3 separate regions of the Homo sapiens genome follow, and all the other regions are linked to region 2. Evidence: fine-mapped expression QTL. A gene starts in region 2. Each other region holds a variant in brackets. All regions are shown on one strand. Distances are between the middles of the regions.

Evidence for each region. PIP is the estimated chance that this variant, and not a neighbour inherited with it, causes the effect.
Region 1: its variant is the best candidate, but not a certain one, in a credible set for the expression of YWHAQ in whole blood (INTERVAL, PIP 0.62).
Region 3: its variant is the best candidate, but not a certain one, in a credible set for the expression of YWHAQ in whole blood (TOPMed, PIP 0.77).

The regions. Positions count from the first base shown.
Region 1 is chr2:9,739,200-9,741,954 of GRCh38, reverse strand. It overlaps the pseudogene RNU4-73P. Among named protein-coding and RNA genes, the nearest start is that of TAF1B, 100 kb to the left of the region's middle. The variant T/C (reference allele first, on the strand shown) is at 1,257.
Region 2 is chr2:9,629,656-9,632,410 of GRCh38, reverse strand. YWHAQ (tyrosine 3-monooxygenase/tryptophan 5-monooxygenase activation protein theta) reads left to right here and starts at 1,414. Exons shown (of 6, transcript NM_006826.4): 1 at 1,414-1,470; 2 at 1,877-2,252. The coding sequence starts at 1,959. RefSeq lists silencers at 1,093-1,262, 1,313-1,412, 1,613-1,962 and enhancers at 2,083-2,182, 1,926-2,755.
Region 3 is chr2:9,750,627-9,753,381 of GRCh38, reverse strand. It overlaps LOC124905969 (a long non-coding RNA gene), which reads right to left and starts at 550. Exons shown (of 3, transcript XR_007086205.1): 1 at 414-550. RefSeq lists enhancers at 1-315, 2,208-2,277, 2,578-2,657. The variant T/C (reference allele first, on the strand shown) is at 1,537.

The DNA.
Region 1 (2,755 bases), 110 kb before region 2:
AGCAAAGGAAACCTCAGGACAAGACATGTCCCGATCCATCACTGGAGCCTGAGGTCCTCTTTCTGGTTAAACACGTGAGGCAGGTGCTACTCTTCTCCTTCCTGTATGGATGAGAAGGGCTCAAAGGGTTAAGTAACATGATTGAGGTAACACCAAGGTGAGTACATTTGCCTTAGTCCATTTGCATTGCCATAAAGGATATACCTGAGCCTGGGTAACTTATAAAGAAAAGAGGTTTCTTTGGCTCATGGTTCTGCAGACTGTACAACAAGCATGGTGCCAGCATCTGCCTCTGGTGAGGGCTTCAGGCTGCTTCCACTCATGGCAGAAGGCAAAGGGAAGCCGGTATGTGTAAGAATCACATGGGGAGAGGGAAAGCCAGAGAGAGGAGGAGGAGGTTCCAGGCTCTTTAAACAACCAGCCTTTGAGGGAACTAATAGACCAAGAACCTACTCATTATAACAAGGACAAGGACAGTACCAAGACCTTCATGAGGGATTTGTCCCCATGACCCAAACACCTCCCATAGGCCCCCACCTCCAGTATCGGGGATCAAATTTCAACATGAGGTTTCGGGAGACAAATATCCAAACCACAGTAGCATTACAGCCAGAATTCCAAGTGTGGCTGACTCCAGCCGGTGTATCTGTTGTTGTTCACACGTTACACCCATGAGTCGTCATCCATGCCACCTACTACCAGTGGACAATGACCTCGTGGTGCATGTACCCTCAGTGATCCATCTGGCCACTGCAGAGACAGGTGAGCTTGAAAAGGGGCCACCATGGCCACAAATCAGAAAATGCAGGATCACAAATGGAATTGTGGGATACAATTCTTTGGCATAGAAAGGGCCAGGCAAAATTATGACACAGTGCATTAATAATTAATTAGTGCTTAATCAGGAGCTCTACATAGCAGTTCATTACCCAAGGACACTCCCCATTATAACTGTAGCAAATGGGTCTGGGCAGGCAGCCCTGCCAGCCTCTTTTGAGGCTCACCAGTGACTTTGAGGCTCCCCTTCCAGGGCTGAGGTCACTAACCTCCCCTAGACCTGGCGACCAGTAGCTGGTGTAAGAGGTCCCCAAGAACAGGGGTGATCTGACTCACCCTGGAGAAATTTAAGACACGCTGGGAAGGCAGAGCCCTTGCTTAAAAATAACTCCTCAGATTTCTGCAGTGGCGGTACCATAGCCAATGAGGTTTGCCTGAGACATGATTATTGCTAATTGAAAACTTTTCCCTATAGCTTG[T/C]CATGACAACTTGAAATATAATTGGCATCGAGAATTTTTGAGACTCTCTACAGAGGCTGAACAACCAAAAAAACATAAAAATTTAACTCCTCCTCAGCTTCACTTTGGCACAATGCCAGAAGGACCTCTATTAAGTTGTGCACATTTGTGCAGCCCCCCACCCCCCAACTTCAAATACAAATGCCCATCAGGGAGCTAAAACCTTCTGCATTCGTTGGTTGGAGGAGTCCCCACTAGGGTATGAGTGTTGAGGGTGTAGGGGCAGGAACCACATGTGAGTCGTTGTTGTATTTGCCACACTATGTGACAGGTGGGTGGATGGATAGATGGGTGGATGGGTGGGTGGGTGGGTGGGTGGGTGGGTGGATGGGTGAATAGATGGGTGGATGGGTGGGTGGATGGGTGGATGGATGGGTGGATGGATGGGTGGATGGGTGGGTGAATGGATGGGTGGGTGGGTGGGTAGATGGATGGATGGATGGGTGGGTGGATGGATGGGTGGGTGGGTGGGTGGATGGATGAGTGGATGGATGGTAGGATGGATGGATGGGTGGGTGGATGGATGGGTGGGTGGATGGGTAGATGGATGGATGGATGGATGGATGGGTGGGTGGGTGGGTGGATGGATGAGTGGATGAATGGATGGATGGGTGGGTGGGTTGATGGAGAGACAGGAGTGAAAAATACACAACAGAGGGAGAGGAAAATCACAGTCTATCCTTGCTTGTTTCCAGCAAAGAAGAACGTAGCTCCTGACTGGCTGCCACATATGTGTCTGAGCAGCGAGTTCCAGGGACCTTCTCAGTGATGCCGATGGCCTCTCCAGGCAAATAGCGCAGGCCTGGCCGGTATCCAGAAGGAACTCCAGGCTGCCTCTCCTTCCCGGACGCACACCCTCCCCTGGGGAAAGACCCCAGACAGAGCCCGCGGGGCCTACAAATAGCAGAGTCCCTGGCTCTGAGCACAGGCAACGGAGAGGGGACGGGAAACGGGACTCGGGCGCCAAGTCACTCCCCTGCCTCGCCCTGGCGGAAGGGCAGGCGTCACACCTCTAGGAGGAAGGCAGATGTGAGAGGGCTGAGCCCTTCCGGGGGCTCAGAGGATCAAAGGCACTGACATCCTAAGAGAATTGGAAACCAGAAACAGGGCCGGGCGCGGTAGCGCACGCCTGTAATCCCAGCACTTTGGGAGGCCGAGGCGGGCGGATCACGACAGAGCGAGACTCCGTATCAAAAAAAAAAAAAAGAAAAAACAAAATAGAAACCGGAAACAGGATGAGCTGGGTCTGCAGAAGCGGCGTGTGGGACCCATTCCCCGCAAGGGCTTTGTGGATAGGAACCCAGCACAGACTTCCCTCTTATCAACAGGACCGAGGCATGAGAACACGAGGGTCAGCCTGGGCTCCCTGACCGCAGTCTCCTCAGAAGGGAGTCTGGACAGCGAGTCTTGCCTCTGCTGCTCCTCTGGGGCCTCCTGATGCCTGGCAGGGAGAGGAGCCA
Region 2 (2,755 bases):
GGGGCAGTCAAGAGGGAGTCTGAATTTCTGGAAAGTCGGCACCTTCTCCTCCCATCTGTCTGCACTCTCAAATCTCCCATTCTAGAGATTCTCCGGATTTGCTCCAGTCTCCACTCAGAATGGGAAATTCTTTATGATCCATTCTCCTTAGACCTGCTGGAATCGGGATCATAGCAGCGTGAACCCAGAGGGCAATTCTCATCTTAAGATGGCACAGGGACCACGCGCCAGACGGGCAGGGCAGCCACCCTACCTGGATGGAGTTAGGGAACTGGGGAAGTGCAAGGAGAGACAGGAGTGGTTTAAGAGGAAAGGGAGCTGCCAGGGATGACCCTGAATGGGAGGGGCCTGGGGGAATCTTTCTCGCTTCAGCAGGGTGTTCCCCAGGAGGAGAAAATCAGAAATCAACATCCAGGGAGAGGATTTCAGCTTTTCAAGTGACCTCTCACAAATAATACCAGAAACAAAAGCGTGTGCACATGTGACAACGATGTGAAAAATGATGTATTTAGGTGCATAACCTGGAAAGCCTAAAAGATACATAAAAATTGCTTTTTTTTTGCGGGGAGAGATGTTATGGGCAGGGTTTTTTTTTGCGGGGGTGGGAAGGGGTAGTAATAGGTGTTTTCCTGCAAATTGTGCTTAATGTCATTTCTCATTTTAAAGAAAACCACAATACTTGGCATTGTCACAGAAACTCCCCTGGATCTTCTGGGACCTACCTTTTCACAAGGGAATTTTTTGTTTTAGGATGCCCATCTGAAAACTTGAATTTATCATGTAAATGCCATACTGAAGACACCGTCTCCAGAATCAATTCTTCTTTAATGGGGATGCGGTTTGCTTAATTCGGAGCCCTAATGGCAACGTCATTAAGGTCTGGGTTTAGTGTCTTGGGATCCAAACCTTTGTCACGGATAGAAAGGTGGAGGAAAGAAAGGCCCCCGTGCTCTAAAACAGCTGAATATGTCACCCTCCGAAGTCCAGCCTCGGCCAGAGCCCGTGAGATGCAATGCACCATCCGCAGCGGGAGACGCAGCCGCCGCCTAGGAGGTCGTGCGCGCCTCTGGGTCTCGTGCCGCACCCAGAAGTGCCGGGGTGGCGGGGAGGCTGAGGGGAGTTGGTAACGGCATCGCCATGGCAACAGTGACGTCCTTTTACCCTGGATCTAATTGGAGGAAACCCCGTGGCCGAAGCCGCAGCCTGCCGGCCAACCGAACTTCCCCGTACCGACCCACCCTCCTAGCCTCCGCGTTCCCTCCCGCTCCGCCCCCCTCGCCCCCTTCCGCGCGCTCGGTCCTCATTGGCCAGCGGCGCGCTGGGGGCGGGACTCTCGGGAGAAGCTCGGCGCATCATTGGGCGGTGGACCGCCCCTCGGCCCCGGGGTAGGCTGACACGGGAGGGTCCTCAGCTAAAGCCAAAAGCAGATCAAAGTGGTGGGACTCGCGTCGCGGCCGCGGAGACGTGAAGGTGAGCGCCTGGGTCGGCCCGCGGGCTTCCTCCGGCCGCGCTCGGATTGAGGGCCGGGCGGAGGTGCCGCCCTTGAGAGCAGCCGGTTGTCGATGCCGCTCCCCTCAGGGACGGCTCCGGGCGGGAAGGTGCGGGGCCAACGGTCGCTTCCATCTTGGGCCGGCCGGGCGGGGGTGGCGGGAGCGGCCGCGGCTCGGGCTCCCTGCGCGCGGGGCCTCCGCGCCGCCCCCGCCTCCTCCAGCCGCGGGCCGCGGCCTCCCCGGGTGCCCAGCGGGGGAGGGGGCGGGGGAGAGGGAAATTCAAGCGGCCGCGTGTGCGGGAGACAAAAGCGGGCGGCGGGCCGCATTGTCTGACGGCGCTCCCTCTCTGCTTTTTGTTCTCGCCTCGCCGCCCCGCCCCTCCGCAGCTCTCGAGGCTCCTCCCGCTGCGGGTCGGCGCTCGCCCTCGCTCTCCTCGCCCTCCGCCCCGGCCCCGGCCCCGCGCCCGCCATGGAGAAGACTGAGCTGATCCAGAAGGCCAAGCTGGCCGAGCAGGCCGAGCGCTACGACGACATGGCCACCTGCATGAAGGCAGTGACCGAGCAGGGCGCCGAGCTGTCCAACGAGGAGCGCAACCTGCTCTCCGTGGCCTACAAGAACGTGGTCGGGGGCCGCAGGTCCGCCTGGAGGGTCATCTCTAGCATCGAGCAGAAGACCGACACCTCCGACAAGAAGTTGCAGCTGATTAAGGACTATCGGGAGAAAGTGGAGTCCGAGCTGAGATCCATCTGCACCACGGTGCTGGTGAGTCCTCGGCGCGGGGAGCAGGGGAGGCCTTTTGTGAGATGCTTTTCATTGAGAGTTTCGCGGGCACGGAAACAAACGTGAGCCGGGGCTTGCCGGACTGTCTGCTGGGGTGGAGGGTTTTAGGTGAGCCCTGACTTCCCTACTGTGTCCCTCCGGTTGTTGAGACTCAAGAAGCCGCTTTTCCAAGGATAAGTCCTTTTTTTTCGCCCCAGATGCTGGGTAGCTACCAAACGATGGAACTTGGAAACATCCAAGTAGGTCTCTGCGAGACTGAAAGGCGTTTTTAAGTTTCTTGTGCGGGGAGACTGCGTCCTGAGATCTGTGAGCCCTTTAAATGTATTCAGTCGGTTCACAAGCTTCAGGCAGTTGAAAGAAGGCGCAGGCACCTTTTTGTTACAGACAATGTAGTAGGGATTTTTTCCCAAACCCAGTAATGGAAATTTACTTAGAAAATCTGAACAGATACTTTATTTTTCAAGTAAGAGTATCTGTTGTGCTCC
Region 3 (2,755 bases), 120 kb before region 2:
TGCGAGGCTTTGTCCCGTTAATGAACTCTCTGTGATTCATTTCACTTCTCTGCATAATGGGCATGACACAGCCTGGAAGTTGGGCGTGATAAGTCAGTTAAAGGGGAAGTGTCATGTCCAGAGCCTCTGCCTGAGCCTGCACCAAGCAGGCACCTCCACAGGTTTTCTCCCCACTTGTGCCCCTTACTTTTGCCCTGGCCTGCGTCCTGAGCCAAGGGACGGAAGGGAAGGTCTGTGGGTCGGTTCCAGGCGGGGGTAGAGCCCTGAGCTGATGAGGGTTCTGAGCCTGGGGTCCACCCTGACAGTGGAGAACCTGCAATGCTGGGCCAGGAGCCTGAACTTCAGGCTGCCAAAAGTAGAGTAACTCAGCAGGGGCGAGTTCCCAGGGCCCGTGTCCCCTTCCTTCTCCTCACCTCCAATAGCAAAGGGAGGGGTCAGCGGCTGCCCGCCTGTGATAAATCCGAGAAGGAGCCCGGCCAGCCCAGATGTAGAAAACGGCCGACTTGCTCTCGGAGTTTTGTAGCTGCTTTGACTAAAAGCAGCATCACCCCCACCACACCCCAGTGCAGAGAAGTGAACCAGCGCTGAGTCACAAAGCACAGCCCCAAACCTGCCCTGGGCCACAGCCCGCCCACCGCACCCCCAGCTTCCTGAGGTTGGGTCATGGGAGCAGAGACCTGAGAGATGAGGAGGTGCATTGAGGTCTGGGAGGAGCATGCTAAGCCCATGGGATGGCAAGAGCAAAGTCCCCCAGCAAAGGACAAGAGAGCGGCCAGGGCAGCCGTGCCCGAGACTGAGCCTGGAGGGTGATGGGCAGCAGGGACTGTCCGGAGCCTTGTTGGCCAAGGATGAGTTCAGTTCTCATCTGAAAGCCACCAGAAGGTTTTAGGCTGGGGAAGGGCAGGATCTCATGCTTTAGAAAGGCACTGCTGGCTGGGCGCCGTGGCTCATGCCTGTAATCTCAGCACTTTGGGAGGCCAAGGCGGGCGGATCACGAGGTCAGGAGTTCGAGACCAGCCTGACCAACATGATGAAATCCCATCTCCACTAAAAATACAAAAAAAATTAGCTGGGCATGGTGGCACGCGCCTGTAATCCCAGCTACTCAAGAGGCTGAGGCAGGAGAATCGCTCGAACACAGGAGGCGGAGGTTGCAGTGAACCAAGATCACACCACTGCACTCCAGCCTGGGTGACAGAGCAAGATTCCGTCTCAGAAAAAAAAAAAGGAAAGAAAGAAAGGAAGGAAGGAAGGCACTGCTGGCTGCGTGGTGGAAACCAGTCTGCTGGAGGGCAAGAGTGGAAGAGGCCATTGCAGTCACTCAGGCCAGCGGAGACGTGGGTCTGGCCGGGCCACGGCAGTGGAGGCGGGAGGAGCGTAGGGTGCAGGGTGCATATTCTGGCTGCAGAGCGGGGTTTCTTGGGGCGCTGCTACCGACATTTTGGACTGGAAGACACTTCACTGTGGGGTCTGGCCTGTGCACTGTAGGGTATTTAGAAGCATCCCTGGCCCCAATCCACTAGAAACCCATAGCCC[T/C]ACCCACCCCCAATTATGACAATAAAACATGTCTCCAGACATTGCCAAATGTGCCCTGGGGGCCACGGTCCCTCTGGGCTGAGAACCACTGCTGCAGAGCCTGCAGAACTCAGGGCTAGATTGTGCATGGATTTGGAGCGAAAGAGAGAAAACAAGCACCACCAGGGGTTTCTCATCTCAGCAATTAAGTGGGGCAGTTACTGAGTTCAGGAAGCCTTGGAGCCAACGGCCGCTGTCAGGTTGAACACTGGAAAACAACATTGGAAACTACAGTCTGGAGCTCAGGGAGTATCTGGGTTGAAGGGAGAGACGGGAATGTTGCTGGGGTGCAGCTCTCCAGGGACAGAGTGTGGACGGAGAAGAGCCAAAGAGACAGCTCCAATGTCACAGCCTCAGAAAGAGCGGACACCAGGCCAGTGGGCCTCACAGGAGCCAGGGGAGACACTTGCAGGAGCAGGAGCAGGAGCGGTCTGCTGGGTCAGATGCGGGGATGTCTGAGTAGCATGCGGACAGTGAGCTGGGTGAGGAAGGAGGGAAAAGCTAAGCCCCTTCCCAGCTGCAGGCTTCCTACCTGCAGCAAGCTCAAGACAGCAGAGGCAAGAAGACTTCATTTTCACTCAAATTCAGGACGGGACATTTAACCTTCCTGCAGTGAGACAGTTTTTATTAACTAAGAGCAACCAGAAACGTAATAGGATTGCCTGAGTTTGCAGCAGTGGCCGAGAAGAGGTGATTCCCCTGACTAAATCAGGACAGAGGAAGGAGTTGCTTTGTGATTTGATCCTGAAAGTGCTGCTAATTCAACGCATTGGCCACATTTGGTCTGTAGGCACAAGGCCAGGGTTGAGAGAGCTGCTGATGGGGGACCTGTGATGGCCTGGAGCCCAGCCCAGCCTGTCAGCTGTAGGTGGGACTTCCCAGACCCGTCCAACCCAAAGCTCCACCACAGAGAGGAGACAGCCATGAACTTGAGTACAGGTAAAACAAAGCAGAATTAGTGAGTGCTACCATCAACCTACATGCTGAACACTGGGGAGAATAGAGGAGGAAGCCACGAGTCTGACAGGGGTGAGGAAGGGTGGAAACCAAGGAGGGCTGCTCTGAGGAGGTGACACTTAAACTGGGCCTTGAAGGGAGAATTTCAACAAGCAGAGAAAGGAAATCATTTTTTGTGAGTTTTTAGGGTACTCCCTCCAGTAACTCCCCTCTCCCCCAACTC